5 separate regions of the Homo sapiens genome follow, and all the other regions are linked to region 4. Evidence: fine-mapped expression QTL. A gene starts in region 4. Each other region holds a variant in brackets. All regions are shown on one strand. Distances are between the middles of the regions.

What was found.
Region 1: its variant is fine-mapped to the expression of LIPC in thyroid (GTEx, PIP above 0.99).
Region 2: its variant is fine-mapped to the expression of LIPC in whole blood (TOPMed, PIP above 0.99).
Region 3: its variant is fine-mapped to the expression of LIPC in whole blood (TOPMed, PIP above 0.99). The same link has a PIP of 0.9 or more in blood mononuclear cells.
Region 5: its variant is fine-mapped to the expression of LIPC in nasal epithelium (TOPMed, PIP 0.91).

What each region holds. Positions count from the first base shown.
Region 1 is chr15:58,377,338-58,381,457 of GRCh38, forward strand. No RefSeq gene overlaps it. Among named protein-coding and RNA genes, the nearest start is that of LIPC, 53 kb to the right of the region's middle. The variant C/A (reference allele first, on the strand shown) is at 1,642.
Region 2 is chr15:58,397,804-58,401,923 of GRCh38, forward strand. No RefSeq gene overlaps it. Among named protein-coding and RNA genes, the nearest start is that of LIPC, 32 kb to the right of the region's middle. The variant G/A (reference allele first, on the strand shown) is at 1,867.
Region 3 is chr15:58,408,638-58,412,757 of GRCh38, forward strand. No RefSeq gene overlaps it. Among named protein-coding and RNA genes, the nearest start is that of LIPC, 21 kb to the right of the region's middle. RefSeq lists a silencer at 1,833-2,127. The variant C/T (reference allele first, on the strand shown) is at 1,927.
Region 4 is chr15:58,429,509-58,433,628 of GRCh38, forward strand. It overlaps LIPC (lipase C, hepatic type), which reads left to right and starts at 2,483. Exons shown (of 9, transcript NM_000236.3): 1 at 2,483-2,612. The coding sequence starts at 2,525. RefSeq lists an enhancer at 502-796 and a silencer at 502-796.
Region 5 is chr15:58,455,752-58,459,871 of GRCh38, forward strand. The region is part of intron 1 of LIPC (lipase C, hepatic type); the gene reads left to right. All of the region lies in intron 2 of LIPC-AS1 (LIPC antisense RNA 1), which reads right to left. Among named protein-coding and RNA genes, the nearest start is that of LIPC, 26 kb to the left of the region's middle. RefSeq lists a silencer at 2,507-2,566 and an enhancer at 4,102-4,120. The variant G/A (reference allele first, on the strand shown) is at 2,182.

The sequences.
Region 1 (4,120 bases), 52 kb before region 4:
GAGAAGGAGTTGGCCTGATAATGCTGGCTTTGAATATGGAGGAAGAGGCCACAAGCCAAGGAATGTAGCCTAGAGACACTGGAAAAGGCATGAAAATGAATTCTCTCCTACAGCCTCCAAACGAAACACAGCCCTGCTGACACCTTAATTTTAGTCCCAGGAGCCCAATTTGGGACTTCTCACTTCCAGGATTCTAAGAGAATAAATTTGTGTTGTTTTAAGCCATTAAGTTTGTGGTCATTTGTCACAGCAACAATAGGAAGCTAATACACTTTCGTACAGGTCATTTTTCTAATACAGTTCTCAATGCAGCCCTTTAGGACTTCCCTACTTAAAATTGAACCCCTCCCCACTCCCCTTTCCTGCTTTATTTTTCTCTAACACACAATATAGTTAGACTTATTTATCATGCTTATTGTCTCTATCCTTTGTTTAAAACATAAACACACAGCTGGCAGGGTGGCTAATGCCTGTAATCCCAGCACTTTGGGAGGCCAAGGAGGGCAGATCACTTGAGGTCAGGAGTTTGAGACCAGACTGGCCAACATGGCGAAACCCCATCTCTATTAAAAGTACAAAAATTAGCTGGGCGTGGTGGTGGGCGCCTGTAGTCCCAGCTACTCAGGAGGCTGAGGCAGGAGAATCACTTGAACCCAGGAGGCAGAGTTTGCAGTAAGCTGAGATCGCGCCACTGCACCCCAGCCTGGACGACAGAGGAAGGCTCCATCTCAAAGAAAATAATAATTAAAAAATAAAAATAAAACATACATACACAAGGGCAGAAATCATTGCTTCTTTGGAATAGTCCTACCACACAGTAGGTGCTCCATAAAAATTCAGTGAATTAATAACTTAACTTGAATATAGTATTAAGACTAATCCTTTATCCACATAACAGATTCCCTCCACCAAAAAAATTAGCAATTTTGTGGTTATCTCTTTATATTTTCCTCATATAATTTTAGAATCAAACAGAGCCTGCTCCACCCATAATGAAAGTCAAGGAGGAAAGTACATTGGAAATGAGGAATAATTAAAACAACTGTATTAGGCAGGGCTCTCCAGTGAAATAGAACCAATAGGAGATTAGATAGATAGATAGATGATAGGTAGATAGATAGATAGATAGACAGATAGATAGATAGATAGATAGACAGACAGATAGATAGACAGATAGAGTCATGCATCGCTTAACTACAGCACTGTTTTCTGAGAAATGAGTCATGAAGGCAGCTTTGTCATTGTAGGAATGTAACCAAGTACTCCCATTCGTCTAAGAAAAACAGAATGATTTTTTTCTTTTCTTTTCTCCTTTCTCCTTTTCCCCTGTTCCTCACTTCCTACTTAGACCTCCCCATCACCAGACATTCCCTACAGGGCAAGTTCATCTAACTATATGCTTAGGGGCTCCAGAGTGGAACTCTCTCCCGGCTGAAGATTGCCTCGAGAGCAACACTCAATTTACAAGCCTAAGTATGCCCACTACAAAATTCTCTCCCACCTGGAGAGTTTCAGACACTTTTAAAACCTAGTTCTGCCCATGAAGGCGCCAGCTCAATGGCCCAGTAGATAAGGCACTGAAGCGAATTATGTGGACCTCCATCCAATTGCTTTCTCCCCTGCATGCCATTCATGCCAAGC[C/A]CCCTTTTAAAATAATTCCTACTTTCTGCACCTGCTACCCTTAAGACAAGAAGCCTGTACTTCTTCCCCTAAGCTAGCTTTGAAATATAATATATCACTTTTTTTAGAACTAATAAACAAATTTATTAACGTTACAGGATACAAAATCAAGATGCAAAAATCAATGGTGATTTTATACACCAACAACAATCTCATTTATATTAGCAACGAAAAGAAACCACTTAGTAATTAACTTAGCGAAAGAGATGAAAAATTTGTACATTGAAAATTATAAAAGATCGATGGAGGAAATTTAAAAGACACAAATAAATGGGAAGACATCTCATGTTCATAGATTGGAAGAATTTTTTTTAACTTTTAGTTTAATTTCAGGGGTACATGCGCAGGTTTGTTATACAGGTAAATTTGTGTCATGGGAGTTTGTTGTACAGATTATTTTATTACCCCAGTATTAAGCCCAGCATTCACTAGCTATTCTTTCTGATCTTCTCCCTCCTCCCACCCCCACTCTCCAATAAGCCCCAGTGTGTGTTGTTCCCCTCTGTGTGTCCATGTGTTCTCATCATTTAGCTTCCACTTACAAGTGAGAACACATAGTATTTGATTTTTTGTTCCTGCATTAGTTTGCTAAGGATAATGGCCTCTAGCTCTATCCATGTCTCTGGAAAGGGCATGACCTCACTCCTTTTTTATGGCTATATAGTATTCCATGGTGTATATGTACCACATTTCTTTATTCAGTCTACCACTGATAGGCATTTAGGCTGATTCCATGTCTTTGCTATTGTGAATAGTGCTGCAATGAACATACATGTGCATGTGTCTTTATAATAGAATATAAAGCAGTTCCTTTATATCAGACCTCACTCTTGTTAATTGGACTCTGCAAGCAGTGAATGACTGGATCTGCATTTCAGTTACAGGAACAACATAAAGTGTACTTACACAAATTTACACGATACAGTCAAATATACAACTAGGCTATATGATAGAGCCTATCGGTCCTAGGCTAAAAACCCTGTACTGCATGTTACTGTACTGAATACTGACAGCAGTTGTAACACAGTGGTAAGTATTTGTGTATCTAAACATATCTAAACATAGAAAAGCTAAAGTAGTATAATCTTATGGGACCACCATTGTATATGTGATCTATCATTGACCTAAATGTCATTATGCAGAGCATGACAGTATACATATATAAAATAAGGAATTGGTTCACAAGATTATGGGGGCTGAGAAGTCCCGAGATCTGTGGTCAGGCAGCTGGAGACTGAGGAGAGTCAAAGTATAGTTCCAGTTTGAGTCTGAAGGCCTGAGAATCGAGAGAGTAGATGGTGAAAGTTCTAGTCCAAAAACCAGCAGGCTTGAGACCCAAAAACAGCCAATGTTTTAGTCTGAGCCAAAAGGCAGAAAAGACCAGTGTCCCAGCTCAAGCAGTCAGGCAGAAGGAACTTCCTCCTACTTGGCCTTTTTTTTCTATTCAGGTCTTCAACTGATTGGATGAGGCCCAGCCCCATTAGAGAGAGCAATCTGTTTTACTCAGTCTGTCTATCAATTTAAATGTTAGTCCCATCAAAAAACATCCTCTCAGATACACCAGAATAACGTTTAGCCAAAAGTCTAGACACCCAAGGCCCCGTCAGGTTGACACATAAAATTAACCATCACAACCACCAATTTGCATCAATAACATTGGACAAAATGGTTTAGGACATCTAACAAGTGAAATAGAGGAGTTGCTCTGCCCCGACCAAGCCTGAGCCTTGGCTCCACTCCAGCTGGTTCCTGTGCTTGGAGAATAGGAAATCTTTGGAAATATTAGTCAGTTCCCTAGAATATTTAGAAATCCTTGTCCTATAATCAGCCATTTCTCCATAAATACTCCATCAGTTCTCACCTGGATTCCAGACTATATCCACACAGACCATGTATGGGTGAATTCAATAATTCTTTACAAAATAAGTGTCTGATGACTGGGTGCCGTGGCTCATGCCTGTAATCCCAGCACTTTGGGAGGCCAAGGCGGGCAGATCACTTGAGGTCAGGAGTTTGAGACCAGCCTGGCTAACATGGTGAAACTCTGTCTCTACTAAAAATACAAAAATTAGCTGGGGGGCGGCAGGGGGCGGTGGTGTGTCCCCGTAGTCCCAGCTACTCAGGAGGCAGAGGCAGGAGAATCGCTTGAACCTGGAAAGTGTAGGGCGCAGTGAGCCAAGATGGGGCCACTGCACCCCAGCCTGGGTGACAAAGTGAGACTCTGTCTCAAAAGAAAAAAAAAAAGTGTCTGATTGTGATTACTTATTTCATTGTTAAGACAAATGTTCTGGGCTGATCCATCTTTGGCCCAGACTTTCTAGGAACATCAGCTTTTTACTTGTAGCAAAACTATTTACCTGTTTTTGTAGACTAAATTATTCCCTTAACATAGGTAACACAGGCCTGGTCTTGACCCTAGGGAATTTGAACATTTTCCTGA
Region 2 (4,120 bases), 32 kb before region 4:
GCCTCTTCCTGCGGGACTGCGGCAGCCTGTCCTTGGGTTCTGTGAAACAGACTGAATCCCTATAATGAAGTATTTTTTTGAGCTTAAGCTAAGGCAAGTTGGTTTATGTTACTTGCCATCAAAAGCGTTCTGATATAGCTTCCCTCCCTCCCTCAGTTAACTGAGGGACCCTCCGTCCCACATGCCACTGGAGGCCCTGTGTGACCCTAATGCCCTTCCTGGCCTCCCACTCCACATTTCAGCCACGCTGGACCCCATGTGGCTGTGCCACAGGCCTCCTTACCTTGTGTCTCTGGGCTCTGCTAGCTGCTTTGCCTGAAATGTTCAGCAGCCCACTAATCTCCCTCTCCAGCCTCCCCAGGCAGGTAAAAAATTCCTGGCTGCAGGGGCTGCTTACCTCCCTTGACTTTCAGCCTTGCATGTGATTAAAACACTCTAGACAGAGAGCTGCCTGGGATGCTGGGAACCACTCTTTCTAATCCATGCTAGCCAGAACAGGCTTTGAGCTTACAGAGAGCAGGTCCTCCCAGGGAAGCTGAGGGAGACAAACCTCCTTGCTGCAGCCTGAGATGATGTTGTACTCATTAGGTTTGGCTGCGTTCTTTGTTTATAAGGATTTCTTGTGCACCCAGGTTAAAGGCAGGCAGTGCTCAGCAGCCATGTGCTTACTGAGGAATCAACACCATAGTGCAAAAGTAGATGTGGGGACTTTTTACCTTCTAGGGCACAAGTGAACGGAGAGAGGTTCTCCGGATATGCCTGGGTAAGAGGAAGACCTCACCCCCAAAAGATTGTCTGAAGAGCAGAAAATGTGCACATTTTAATCCCTGAGTTGAAAGGAATGGCAAATAATAACATTACACAGTGCCTACATATAGAGCATACACAGTGCTTCACAAAAGCCCTCTAACATCGGTGGTATTATTATCCCTGACTTAAAGAAAGTGAGGCACAGAGGTTAAGCAACTCGCTGAGGCTACAGAGGGACAAAGCGGGACTCTAGCTGCAAAGCTAGTCGGCCTGGCTCCAGTGACTGCCTCTAAGCCAGTGGTTCTCCATGTGTGCTCCCTAGACCAGCAGCATCAGCGTTACTGAGAAGGCACTTGTTAAATGCAAATTCTTGGGCCGCAACCTAGACCTAACTGAATCAGACACTCTGTTCTCAGAGCCCAGCAGTCTGGGTTTTAACAGGCCCTCTGGGGGACCCTGAGGCACACTCTGCCCCCTCATTACTCAATGCGGGACTCCGTCCGGTGGCATCGGCATTGCCAGGGAGCTTATTAGAAATGCAGACTCTCAGGCTCCACCCCAGACCTCACGAACTGGAATTTGCATTCTACCATCTCCAGGTGATTTGTATGCACATTAAAGTTTAAGAATTAGGCCGGGCACGGTGGCTCACGCCTGTAATCCCAGCACTTTGGGAGGCCGAGGTGGGCAGATCACAAGGTCAGGAGTTTGAGACCAGCCTGGCCAACATAGTGAAACCTCATCTCTACTAAAAATACAAAAAATTAGCCGGGTGTGGTGGCAGGTGCCTGTAATCCCAGCTACTTGGGAGGCTGAGGCAGGAGAATCACTTGAACCCAGAAGGTGGAGGTTGCAGTGAGCCAAGATTGCACCACTGCACTCTAGCCCGGATGACAGTGTGAGACTCTGTCTCAAAAAAAGAATTAAAAAGTACTGCTCTGCACTGTGAGGAGCAAACAGCTGGCATTTAATGCAGTATAATTTTAATCCTGTTTAAAGTCCAGAAGCGGAGGGGAGAGTGGAGAGATCCACTGTGAATTAAATTGACAAAACACAGATTGACAGGAGAAAAGGCATACAAATTGTGTTAGTATTTTTTCATTCTACATGCATGGG[G/A]GCTTCACAGAAAAGAAGTGAGAAACCCAAAGAATCAGTCAGGCCCAGGGTCTTATATATGATTCTAACAAAAGTTGATAAATTGTGGAGAAGTGACTAGACAAAGAAAAGAGGGCTGATAAAGTTTGGGAAATAGGAGTAACAAATTGTGGGAAAGTGATGAGGAAATATATGGGGGAAACTGATGAAAGATCAGGGTTATTTTAATAAGGTCTGTTTATGCAGACTCATCCTGGTGCCAGCTCTTCAATTCCAATGATAAGGGTTGCACACGTTATCGTGGTACAGAAGAGGGGAGGAAATTTATGCTCTGCTTTTAGGCAGATAACAAGAAAGTAGAGAAGTTTTCCTTTATCTGTTGATTCACAATTGCTCAAAATAATCTTTACGCCAAAGTGGCATATTTTGGGGTGGCACATTCTAGACTCCTTCATGAACAAGAAGCAAACAACCAGTATGGCTCACAACGGCAAAAAGGCCCAGCTTTGCAGCTTTCAGTACTACTACCACAGCAGTGAAATTGTCTAGTGGTGATTAGGATAGAAGTCATCATGCCCTATTGGCTCATAATGATCACAGATTTATTTTCCAAATATTTCTGTGCAATATACACTTTTATAAATAATCAATTACCACAGCCCCTTGGAAGACTATCCATATTATGAAATACGAACAACGTAACCTCTAAAATGATGCTGAGGTGGTTTACTTATTAACATGAAAAGTTTCTTGTCTGTGTATTAAGTGGGGGTAAACTCAAGTTACTTCTTACATATTTCTTACAACTAGTTATAGATGGGTATGCAGGCAGACGACAGATTGATAAATGGTATAAATATACAAATACATACAAAGAGAGAACAGGAGAGCCAATAAGATGCTAACACTTGTTATATTTTGGAAGTAAGGGTTATAGCCATGTTTTATTTTCTTCTTTTGGCTTACATTTTCTAAATATTCTTCAATAAACCTACCTTATTTTATGATAATGAAAAAAGTCTTTGCAAAAATCTTATGTAATATTTTAATTCACTCTACTCCTGGTTATATGATTTTTCTCAAAGAACCGTTTCATTCCTGTGTGTCTTTCTATTTTAACCATTTGGAGAGGACATCTCTGTAATGTTTAACAGAGTCCCTGCCCCTGAAATGGTCTGTACTGATCATAATGAACAGTGCTGGTGTCACAGGTTTGTAACTCCAGACTTCATTATTGTACCGTGGTGTCCTCAGGTAATACTGAAGGGCTATAGCGCACTTTGCCTCTCACTCAATGACCCCAGTTTGCTGTGCTCTTAGCTCTTGGATCTTACATCTGCTTAGTTTCAGCATCTTCAGGCAGTCCACATTATCTGTCAAAGCGTCTGCTGTTACATGCTCTCTCCTCTCTTCTAATCTGTGGCTTCCAAGATACTGAATCCTTAGAAATTAGAGGACCTCTATGATTATCACTGAATGTAAAGTAAGAGTAAGTATCTTCCAAGTCGAAGCTCAAGTAACTTTCCCAAGAGGAAGGCATGTGAGCTTTGGTACATGAGCTTCCCTCCGGTCTCAGCTGCACACAGCCTTTTTGGGTTTGTCTTCCGGTTCCTGAGTCTATTCTAAATTGGTGGAGTTGCTGGAGAGCAGAATTCTGAATACCTGAAGTGGCAGTGTTTCTCATGGCAAATAGCTGCTTGATGAAGAAATCGCATGGCTCAGATGCTCTGGACATCTCCCTCCAAGAGAAGGAGGCCGCAGATGGCAAGAACAGAACCAACTGGGGTCCCCTCTACCCCCACCCCATCAAAGTGAGGTTATTTAGGGTTACCACCTGGCTACTAGATTTGCCAGATGGCAAGCCTGAGTAACTGCTCAGAAAGAGAAGAACTGCCCAATCCATTACCCTCGCACAGCAGACACTGTTAATTTAACATGTGGTGGACATCATAGTACACAACATGGGGAATGAGGCGGCATAGAGCCGTCATAAAGGCAGCCATCTGGGATCACGTTGGACAGCCCTGCTCACAGTGGCCATGGGAACAACCCAACTGAGTTTTGTGGGGGCAGGGATGAGGGCAAGGCGTTGGCAATGGGGGATGTGTGGAGAGTTGGGTGGGGGAGGCGGGAAACAGGGCATGTGCCCACCTGTGCCAATGGCCTCAGAACGGAAATGGTTTTGGCCACGGGAAAGCCAGTTGCTTCCGTCTCTGAGACATCACTGACTCCTGCCCAACCTCATCTTATTCTGAGTTTTTCTTCATTATTTTCA
Region 3 (4,120 bases), 21 kb before region 4:
GGAACATATTCTGTGTAAAATCAAATCGAATAATTTTATATATATTTTCTTTTGAAAAAAATACACGATTAGATTCAAGAAAAATTGAATTTCTGGTACAAAGGAGGAATAAGGACATGGCCTTCCTAATCCAAGAAGCTCCATGAATAACTAGGGGCCTGCTTTCTTTCACACAAGAAAGCTGGGTAGTACTTTCAAAAACCTGAGATGGATGGGGCACAGTGGCTCATGCCTGTAATCTCAGTACTTTGGGAGGCTGAGGCGGGCATATCACTTGAGATCAGGAGTTCGAGACCAGCCTGGCAAACATGGTGAAACCCCATCTCTACCAAAAATACAGAAATTAGCCAGGCATCATGGTGCATGCCTGTAGTCCCAGCTACCTGGGAGCCTGAGGCAGGAGAACTGCTTGAACCTGGGAGGTGGAGGTTGCAGTGAGCCAAGATCGCACCACTGCACACTAGCCTGGGAGACAGAGCAAGACTCTGTCTCAAAAAACAAAAACGAAAACACAACCTGAGATGGACCATGTGAGCAGGTGATACCATCAGGGAGTGCTCAGTGTGTTCTAAAAATCGCAGTGTCTGGCACACAGCAAAAGCTTCACAAATATACACCAAATAAACAAGGAAAATAAGTAAAAAACATTATGCCTGCATGCTAAATAAATTCACAGATAATCTTCAAATTAACCTGGGTAGAAATGATTTAGCAATACTGAGAAAAGTGGATGCTATCAAGGGTGTTAGTTATTTTAATCCTCTTGACAACACTTTTAGATATTTTTATCTCCAGTTGTTTTTCAGATGAGATTGAGGAAGATTAAGTAATTTGTGCAAGACCACATAACGAGCAAGTGAAAGACCCAGGACTTGAGCCCAAGGCTTTCTAATTGTAAAAGTAGAATCTATCCCCTCAGTCTACTCCACTGTTGCCCAAGCTAATGTTAAGAACACAAATCCGGCTGGGCACGATGGCTCATGCCTGTAATCTCAGCACTTTGGGAGGCCGAGGTGGGTGGATCACTTGAGATGAGGAGTTTGAGGCCAGCCTGGCCAACATGGTAGAACACCGTCTCTACTAAAAATACAAAAATTAGCCGGGTGTGGTGGTGTGTGTCTGTAGTCCCAGCTAAGCAGGAGGCTGAGGCAGGAAAATCACTTGAACCTAGGAGGTGGAGGTTGCAGTAAGCCAAGATCGCGCCACTGCACTCCAGCCTGGATGACAGAGTGAGACTCTGTCTCAAAAAAACAAACAAACAAACAGAAAAAGAGACCACAAATCTGAGGCCCCATCCCAGACCCACTGAAGCAGAATCTCTAGGGAGGAACTTAGAAACATTTGTGTAACAAGACACCAGATGATGATTATTATCAGAGAAGTTTAAAAAAAAAAAAAAAAAAAAGACACCTCTATTGCATCAGATGGGAAATGGACCTACAGCATCCTCTGAGGGATCAAATAAAAGCCATCAGATTTGAAGTTCATACAAGTAAAAATAAATCAGGTCAGTCTGGAGCATATCAGATTATGATATTATAGACTATTCTTCAGTTTGGTAATATAGAATTGTCTGATTTAAGGTTTTCTGGATCTTAAAATACCAAGAACATTTGAAAAGTTAAAAATGGGTTCCAATTTAAACCTCAGACTTTTTTTTAGCTTTCCTCACTGCCTCTGATCCTGAGGAGCAGAAGTGAATGTGAACGCACTTTGAATTCCTAGCAGCTTTCACTGATGCAGAGGTTCCAGCTGTACAGGGGCTGGAGGACTGCTGAGGAGAACAACAAGCTGAGAATCAGTCCTCATCTCTGGTTGCCCCCCACCCCACCCTCATTGCCTTTCATTGGATGAGCAAGTCACACAATCCAGGAAGTGGAAAATCTATCATCGCTTGGTTGGTTTTTCTTAGTTTCAGTTTTTCCA[C/T]GCCTGATGAGAATTGCCAAGGCACAGCAAAGCCTGCAGCTTCCATACCCGTCATGAGAGCAAATAACTTATTTGTAAACCTAAGCACTTAATTAACTAAATGGAAAGCAAGGCAGTGAGTGATTCCTGACATGGCCGAATTTAAGTCAAGCTGTGAAGCTCCAGGTGCAGCCAGAAATGGAGATGGACAACTTGAACTGAACCCTGAGAGCTTCTAAAAAGGCTTTGGACCACTGCTTCTCAGCAGTTTTTCTTGTAAGTTATTCCCATTATCTCAAAGAAAAATTTAAAATATGGTTGGAGAAAAGTATAGAACTGATTATCCCCATTTTGAGCATAGATCATCGTTTAACCAACTTGCTTTCTAACTGCCAAGAAACTTGCTTTGGATGGTATTTCCAGACATAATGTCTATCATAGCAAATATTGACAATTGCATTTTACAAATAATCAGTTTAATATGCTTTAATATGCTTCTATTTCTGATTGCTCTTGATCTCATTTAATCTTCGAAGCAACTCTATCACGTTGGTGTGCTTATTAACATTATTTTACAGATAAAGACGCCTGTAAGTAGCTTCCTCACAGGGTATTTAAGGAACTTGTAGAAAGTCCACAGCTAGTAGCTGGGAGCCCATCTCATATCAATACACTAGCTTCTCCCCAAAGAACTTTATATATTTAGGCCATTGATTTCTTTTTTTTTTTTTTTGAGACGGAGTCTCACTCTGTCACCCAGGCTGGAGTGCAGTGGCAACATCTCGGCTCACTGCCACAGCTCCACCTCCCGGGTTCACGCCATTCTCCTGCCTCAGCCTCCCGAGTAGCTGGGACTACAGGCACCCGCCACCAGGCCCGGCTAATTTTTTGTATTTTTAGTAGAGACGGGGTTTTATCGTGTTAGCCAGGATGGTCTTGATCTCCTGACATTGTGATCCGCCCACCTCGGCCTCCCAAAGTGCTGGGATTACAGGCGTGAGCCACCGCGCCCGGCCTTAGGCCATTGATTTCTAAAAAGACAAATTCTCATATTGGATTAAAACATAAGACCCAACAATACGTATGTTGCTTAAAAATAGGAATCTGTTACCCAAAAAATGCAGAAATGCTAAAATAAAAAGGTTTAATGAGGAAACTCATACGACAAAAAGAAAATAGTTGGTAAAGTTGATAGCATATAAAAGAGATTTTGAAGCCAAAAACACAGGGAGAGGATACAAAGAAGCTCCTGATTATGATAAAAAATAGAAAATCAACTGTGAAGACAGAGGTTACTAAAGTCAGAAATGCAAAGAGAAATAGAATAAAAAACAAGCAATTGTAAAGGGAGAGTTTAATTCATTTCAAGGCTAAGAAAAAAATAGACAAGAGTAAAAAATAAAGACAAATTTAAATAGACAAAAATTTAGAAGACATTGAAGACGTGACAAAAATAGACAATAGAGGTTATGTTATACAATTGATAAGTTAGAACCAATAGACATACACTGAACTCAATACCAACATAGATTACACATTTTTTTCCATATGGGGGCATTGGTACATATATACTAACTCTCAAATAAGGCCCTAAAAATTGAATCAAGAGGAAAAAATATACATATTTTCTCACCACATGCAATAAAGCTAAATGTGAATAAGTAAAAGCAATGAAAGGAGCCTTGGGCAAAAGAATAATCTAACCAAGAGCCTTTGCAGCAAACAGTTCGGGGTTTAGATTATAAACTACATTCCTTACTGCAGTGTGACCTGGGCAGTTTACTGAACCTCTCTGAACCTTGGATTCCTCATCTAAAAATGAGGCTCTACCTTGCAAAGTTGTTATGAAGATTACCTATAAGTATGTCAAATAAACTAAGACTTAAAAGAGAGTTAAAACCGTAAGCCGTACAATATAACTCCATTTTTAATGTACTCATATTTAACTAGAAAAAGTATCTAGAGTTTTTGTCGATTGAAAGCAAAAGTCTATAAAATATTCATCTAAATACTAACAGTGGTTATCTCTGTGCACTGATATTTCTGCCAATTTTTGTTATATTGCTTTATCTTTTCTACTATGAATATATAGTATGTGAATAATAAAAAATAGTAAATTTGAAAATAAACATGAACTTCTGAAAAACAGAGTACAAGAAGAAAATAAATATTTACTCTTGGGTGGCCTACAGATGGTGGTTGCGGTAGGCATACA
Region 4 (4,120 bases):
AAAAGTGGAACTTTCAGATTCTGCTTAACTGTGCAGGAGCCAGCCAAGTATCCAAGGCAGAAGTCCTTGCTCAGAAATTGTATATCTGATGGGCACGGTGACTCACGCCTGTAATCCCAGCACTTTGGGAGGCCGAGGTGGGTGGATCACAAGGTCAGGAGTTAGAGACCAGCCTGACCAACATGGTAAAACCCCGTCTCTACTAAAAATACAAAAATTAGCCAGGCATGGTGGTGGGCACCTGTAGTCCCACCTACTCTGAAGGCTGAAGCACTAGAATCGCTTGAACCTGGGAGGTGGAAGTTGCAGTGAACCGAGATCGCGCCACTGCACTCCAGCCTGGGCGACAGAGCAAGATTCCATCTCAAAAAAAAAAAAGAAAAAGAAAAAGAAATTGTATATCTGACGGGATGGTCCGCAAGCTTCGGGGCTTGGGAGGAAGGTACAGTCATAGGACAGAACACAGCTTTAGACTGGGTCAAGATCGTCCAAGTCTGGTGGTGGCTTCAGAAGGCCCTTTGAATGAGGCTCGTCCAGGCAATAATTACCATGTTATCTAATTTTGCCCGCTTAACGTTTCCACTTGGATGTCTAAGAGCCATCTCAAAGCCCCACGTGGCCAAGGCTGAATCTCTAATCTTCCCCCAACAGACCTGCTTCACTCACAGCTTCCCCTTCTCAGCTGACAGCAACCCCATTAATCTGCTTGTTCAAGCCAAAAAACCTGGAAGTCATCCTTAACTCCTCTCTTTCTCCCACATCTCACAACTCAGCAGTCAGAAAATCCTGTGGGCTCTACCTTCAAAATATATCCACCACCCATCCACCACTCCGCAGTTGCCCTTTACCATGCTGGGCCACGCCACCATCACCTCTCACTGGGCCACTGTAATAGCCTTCTAACAGATCTCCCCACTGCACCCTGGCTCACTTGCAAACCAGAGTGATATTTTAAAACTATAATACAAATCATATCACCCTTCTGCTCAGAGTCGCCCCCCATGTGTCAATGCATAAAAGTCAAAGTCCTTACAATGTCTCCCCATTCATTGGCCTCCTTGCTATTCCTGGAGCACACCAGGCATACTCCTACCTCAGGGCCTTTGCACAGACTGCCCGAAGCTCTCCTCCCCAAGACGTCCACAGGGGCAACTCCTTCACTTCCTTCAAACCTTTGCTGAAAGTTTAACTTCCCAATGCAATTCACTCTAACCACTCTGCTTAAAATCCCTACCTTCTCCCCAACCCCCTGCTTTTCTTGTAGTGGTTCCCATTACATTCTACCAGTCTACCTAATTTTTTTTTTTTTTTTTTTGAGACGGAGTCTCTCTGTGTCGCCCAGGCTGGAGTACAATGGCGCGATCTCAGTTCACTGCAACCTCCGCCTCCCAGGTTCAAGCGATTCTCCTGCCTCAGCTTCCTGAGTAGCTGGGATTACAGGCACTCACCTCCACGCCCAGCTAACTTTTGTATTTTTAGTACAGATGGGGTTTCACCATGTTGGTCAGGCTGGTCTCGAACTCCTGACCTCGTGATCCGCCCTCCTCGCCTCCCAAAGTGCTGTGATTACAGGAGTGAGCCACCGCTCCTGGCCAGAAATCTCTTCTTTATTATGTCTACTGTCCGTTATCCAACTCCAGAAGGTAAGAACCTCCACTGATACATAAGGACTTGTATACCCCACGTGCCTGCAACAGTGCTTGGCACCTAGTAGGCATACCAAAATATATAAATGTTGAACAAATGAAGAAAGTTAAAGTAAAACTAGAGGTCCAAAAATATCACAAAAGCCATCTATGGTCGCCTTTTCCCTACCTGATTTTGCTGAGTGGCCTTACTTTTCAGTCCTCTACACAGCTGGAACATTAATGAACACAGAGGGGGAAGAAGTGTGTTTACTCTAGGATCACCTCTCAATGGGTCACTTGGCAAGGGCATCTTTGCTTCTTCGTCAGCTCCTTTTGACACGGGGGTGAAGGGTTTTCTGCACCACACTTTGACCACAAGCATCACCAATTTCACTGAACCCAACAGAAATTTGGACCCTCTGGGGGCTCTCTGCGTGGCAGGGCCCTTTTCTTTTTCTTTGGGCTTAGGCTGCAATTTGAAACACCACTTTCCTGAGCCAGCATCCCCCTTGCAGCGCTGTCACAGGGAGGCTTAGGCAGCCACGTGGAAGCCACCTACCCCGACCTTTGGCAGAATTTCCAAACACAACACAGTAGCTTTAAGTTGATTAATTTGGAACTCTGACCTTGGCCCCAAAAGGTAAGAATACATAACAAGGTATTTTATTCTCAAAATGTGTCAGGATAAGAAGCACTTCTGTAAATCGACCTTTTTAAAATAGATATAATTAGATTTGCAGTTGGGGGCAGTAAAGAAAGGGTCTGAACAGTGGATAACATGTTGAGAGGTTAATTATTAATGGGCAGTCTTCCCTAACAAAGTATCTAATAGGCATTGTGGTCTCTTTGGCTTCAGAAATTACCAAGAAAGCCTGGACCCCGGGTGAAACGGAGAAATGGACACAAGTCCCCTGTGTTTCTCCATTCTGTTGGTTTTATGCATCTTTATCCAATCAAGTGCCCTTGGACAAAGCCTGAAACCAGGTAAGAGCCTGACTTTTCTCCAGAGATGGGCATGAACTTTTCTTTTTAAAACGTGTGTCACAAAGAATCCAGGGGTTTCTGACTGTATGGGACAGAGCTTGCTTCAGAGCGTGCCAGGTGGTTCTATACACGACCTCACAGGTTCACAGGGACACGTAGCCGTTTGTAAACAGAAATGAAATTTTAGAAAATCATCCTCGGATTAAAAGTCTTCTAAGAGTGCCTGCAGCTAGCAGTGAAGTCTCTTGCGTATCTGATATGGAAACAGTCATGCTAAAAGTTATTCAGCGGCAAATGATATGAAAGCGATTCAGATCTTCCTGAGAGTTAATGTGGCATCTAATTTGCAACCGGGGAGCCAGGCTTGCAATGAAATGCTCTGTCGGGTTGGGGTTGTCTAATTGCCTGCCTCTCTCAGAAGAGAGGGGAATTTATGAGAGTTCTATTTCCAGTCAGGTCTAAAGTAGAGATATCATTGCACAATTTCTAGACTTTGTTTTGCTGCCAAAATTTTAGTCTGAGGCTGAAGAATCCAACAGCCGTCCTGCCTGTTTTGTTTGTAAATTCACAAACTAGATTGATGGCGAAAGACAGATCAAATGCCTTATCAGGAAGGTAGTAGAGTGGAGCCCAGCTTCCAGGCTAAGCAGTGGACCAATAAATGACGGATCAGTTAATTGAACAATTTGGCCAGACTAGACAGGTGTTTGGGAATTTGTTTTGGTACTGGTTACTGGTCAGGAGCTAGTAACGCTAAGGTAGAGTCTGAGATTTTTCTTTTCTCTAAGACTAGCCTTGGAGAGAGCTCCGACAACTTTGAGAATTAGAAATTCCCTAACGGGATGTACCTAAAAATTTCAGAAGCTTTTTTCCCCTTTAAGAAAAAGGCTGTTCCTTTGTATTTGACTATTTTACTTCATAGGCCAGTTAATAACTGAGTAGCAGTATTAATTATTGCCATTCACTAAGTATTTTCTGTGCCAAGCACTATACTAATTATTTTTGACACATCATCTCATTTATAAAGCCACATCCAAAAATGACCCTTACATAATAATTTAGAGCCATACAGGTAAAATTGCTGGTAATCTTTATTCCCTTGGTTCATAGTGATTTTGCTAAAGGGCCTTTCCTGCCCTTTGCCCCGGAATGTTGTATTTGTTTGTTTACTTTTTAATGAAGTTTATAACACACTTCTAGAAAAGGGCCTCTATCATAAATCCTCAATGAGTTCTCACAAACTGAACCAGTACCCCAAAGCCTTCCTTGTGTGCCCCTTGAGCCTTAACATATATGATTTTTTCCTTTGGGGAGATTTTTCATTAATAGAAACACATCAGTTGCTCTTTTGCGTCTGGCTTCTTTCGTTCGACATTATGTTTGTGAAAGTCAACCATGCAGTTTCGTGGAGTTGAGGCTCATTCATTCTCACTGCTGTAGCATTCCACTGCGGGACCATGCCACACTTCCTTTATCCATTCTACTGTGGATTGGCCAGGACTGTTTTT
Region 5 (4,120 bases), 26 kb after region 4:
TACTGTATATTTCATTATTATTTATAAATTGTATAATACCTTGATAGCAATGAAATGCACAATATATGCATGTATGCGTGTATATATATATGAATATATTTTCTTCCAGAGAGCCAGTTGCTGAGTATCCACCAATGCACCACTGCCTGAGGGGTGTCTACATAAAAAGAGACCTAACAGCCCAGAGCAGCACTTGTTAAGGACCCAAGGCATGGTCCAGACCCCAAGGAAGGGAAGGGGGTCAGGGATGGATAGACAATCTGGAAAGTTCTCCAAGGTGGTCTGAGAAGGCTTCATGGGGGACAGAGAGCCGTAAAGCATGGTAGGACTCAATGACAAATGAAGAATGGCTGTACTTCAGACAGGCACACAGCATGAGCGCAGGAGGCGAGGCTGAAGTCAGGGACACCGAGACAAGAGGGTGAGCATAGGGAAGCAGAAGGGAATGAAGTGGGGTCAAATATATGTAATGGCATGGAAACATGCTATGAGATCAAGCCAAAAGAAAAGAAAAAGTAGAATGCAAAATTTTACATTTGCATTAAGGAAAAAACACGTTAGAAGAAAATGCACTTAAATAAATTGCTCTGTGTGATAGTATGATAGCTGATTATGTATTTATCCTCAATGCTTTCTGTACCTTCCTGTTGTTCTGAAGTTGTATTACTTTGATATTCATGGGGAAAAATAAGCTTTTCCAGTATGAAGGGCAAAAAGCACTGAGCCAAACCTGAAGCCATAGCTAAGGACAGGGCACATCTCCCCTGATGCAGCCCAGAGGCCCCTGGAGGGAGGTGCTGGGGGGTGAATAGAGACTAGGGGTGTCACTCCCTCCTAGGAGGACTGCAGGAGCACATGGGTAGCCAATGCTAAGGCCTCCTGCCCCCATGGGCCTAAGTAGCCCTGTCCACACTGGGGATCTGCCCGCTACCTCATAGCCTCAGGTAGATGTCTGGTCTCTCTTTGCAAATGTCCCCCGCAACCCATCACATTCATAAAGGCAACAAATTGGGGAAAACGAGAGGTCCTCTGTCTTTTTAGGGCTTCACCACTGCTGTTTTCCCAACTAAAGAAATATGTACATATGTTTAAGTATACTTTACCATGCGTAGAATGGGAAAAACAGAAGTTATTCTAGAGAACATCTCGCTCAACTCGTTTATTTTACTAATAAGAAAATAGAAACTATGGAGGTCAAGTGGCATACCCAGGGAAACAGAGCTAAGTGAGAACTAGGCTCCAGCAGAGATGATGCCCAGGGCCGGGCACCTCCTTTGTCAGCATGCAGGTATCATCAGACAAGGCCAAAACAGCACTGGGCGATGTGGGCTGAGCAGCCCTTGGCTTCGAAAACATGATTTTTTTATTATTTTTTGAGACGGAGTTTCACTCTTGTTGCCCAGAATGGAGTGCAAAGGTGCGATCTTGGCTCACCACAACCTCCACCTCCCGGGTTCAAGCATTTCTCCTGTCTCAGCCTCCTGAGTAGCTGGGATTACAGGCAGGCACCACCACGCCTGGCTAATTTTTGTATTTTTAGCAGAGACAGGGTTTCTCCACTTTGGTCATGCTGGTCTCAAACTCCCGACCTCAGGTGATCTGCCCGCTTCAGCCTCCCAAAGTGCTGGGATTACAGGCGTGAGCCACCGCGCCCGGCAGACATGACGTATTCTAAGCACTCCTCAAATTTACCTGTGGACAGCAAGAAGGCCTACAAGGCACCCCGTTTACGATATGCCACTTGGCTCCTTCAGGGCAGAGCTGCAGCAGCAGTCCTTGTTTCTCTGTGCCCCACATCCCCTCAGCATGTAAGACCACTTCTGCCCCACCCATTGCTGAATGGGACCTTCAGATGCTATCTTCTCCATAAAGCTTTCTATGACTCAGGCCGCATCATTTTGTGGTCAACTACTTTCACTATTATTGTGTTTATTCTCCCTAAACCAGCCAAGCAATCCCATTTGGTAATCGAAAGAGCAAGTAGCACTGGCTTGGTCATTTCCTTCACATAAACCTGACTGAACTGGATATATGGTAAGGATTTCCATCTTGTACATAAACACTTGTCCACCTCCGTGATTCACACAATTCCTTTTCCACTCTATCCCGGGCCCATGTCTCCATCCTGCCCCTGATGCTGGCTCTGCAGGCATTTTCTACATGGCTGTCTGTGTACATGCC[G/A]TGTGGTTAGTCTTAAATCAAGGGCTCCTAGAGTGCATAGGACATACCAGTTTATACTTTTTCTCATCAGGAATATGTGTAGCTGGAGGATTAAGAAATACATTTTCATGAGCTAGACAATAACAAAAATTAAATGGCAAAAGTCCTTGCTGTCCTTAGTAGCTAGGGAGCTTTAAAAATAAATACATAAGCACCTGTTTCCGTTTTTTTACTCCTACAGAAGCAGGGAAATTGCTGGAGAAAAAAAAAAAATGTAAGTCCATATATTCTGTACTGTGTCCCTTGGAAGAATAAAATTTTAAATGAGGTCATCAGGAAGTGCTTCCTAAATGTGAAGTTCACAGACTGAACTTTGAAGTTTAGCAATGGACTTCCCCTGAGCAAGGTCGGCTTATGCTATTGTTAGACCAGCAGCTGAGCCTCCCCCACCACGTCCTTCTACCTCTTGCAATTAAAGCACAGCCCAGGCAGGTTTTTCTTAAACAGGATTTTTCTTTATGTTGGTGCATATGCTGCTGTTATAATAGCAGGGACATTGTCCTCATTCCCAGCTCTTTCCTCCAAGTCAAAACATTTAGAATGACACCACCCAAAGAATAAGTCTTACTTGAGGCTTTGCAACCTCTAACCCTTCCCACCTCTAACCTTTTCCCATCTTTATCCCCGTTATCTTGGGTGCTTTCAGTTTTCAGAGACCAGCTTTCCAACAGGGCTAAATAACACTCTATGGTTTCTTTCCCCATCAGAAACCAAAGAACTCCCTGTTTCTCAGCCCTTGCCAGCAGAATCTGGTCACCCCTCTGCCCCTCAAAATTACACATCTTATACAACTAGCTCCTGTCCCTGCACCATTCCTGTCCCTTGTCCTTGATCCTGGTTTCCCAGTGGAACAGGAAAAAGGTTTTACAGAGGGTTTTTTGCCACCATCTCTTTGTTCCTCAGGAGATGATTAAGTTGTGCGTTAAGTGGGGAAAAAGTACATTAGGTCAACCCCAAAATCTGCCATCGATAACATCAGAGTATGTCCATGGCTTTATTAGTTTTCTAGTGAATATTTAAGAGAAAAAGGTGCTAGGTCATAGAACATTGAGAAGGCTATACATCTCCCCTTGGCTATAGGTGCAATACATTCCAAGAGGGAGAGATGGTAGTCATGCCTCCTATTTTTTTAGGTGAGGTATGTATTTTGTAGTTCTGCTGGGACAAAAACAGCTTTCAGTCATTGAAAACCAAAGGCCCAGTGGACATCAGGAGGAGATGGCCTCCCTCACTGCAAGACGACCTCTGGGTCAAAGCCTAGTGAAACTTTGGCTTTTCCCAGCAAGCAGGAAGTGACATAGACAGTGTCTTTTTAGAGACCTCACTTTGGAGAATGCTCAGTGAGGGGCAAACATTTGCTGGTGACATTGTAGTTCTGTCCTTTGCTAAGCTTGAGTGAAAATCTTTTGGAGAATCGACTTTTTTCTTTCTTTTTTTTTTTTGATGTCCCTTAGAGAGCTCACAATAAATAAATAAATCAAAACAAAGCTAAAAGTTCATAAAAAAGTCTCAGGCATGGTCCAGATTTTCAGGAAACCAGCAGTTTCTGGAGGAAGTCCCACCCGCTCCTGAAAACAGAAAAAATAAACGAGAGAGAGTCCACCAGCAAACAGGTGTTTAGTCTTCTCTGGAGTCATATTAAGCAATTTTTACATTTATGGAAAAGCAAACACTCCCCCCACATAGGGTGTGGCCCACACTGGGATTGAAAATCAGCCTCGTGCTCTGCACCGTGTTCTGGTGGCTTCTGCAGCTGTCACAGGAAGGAATCCACACCCGTCCCCAAGGACGCCTGCACGGGAACAGATGCCCGCTCCCTTACCCCTTGGGGGAAGGACAGAGGTATCTGAGGGATTCAGCCCTGGGCACTCCTCTCAGCTTCCTCCTTCACAGGCGGGGC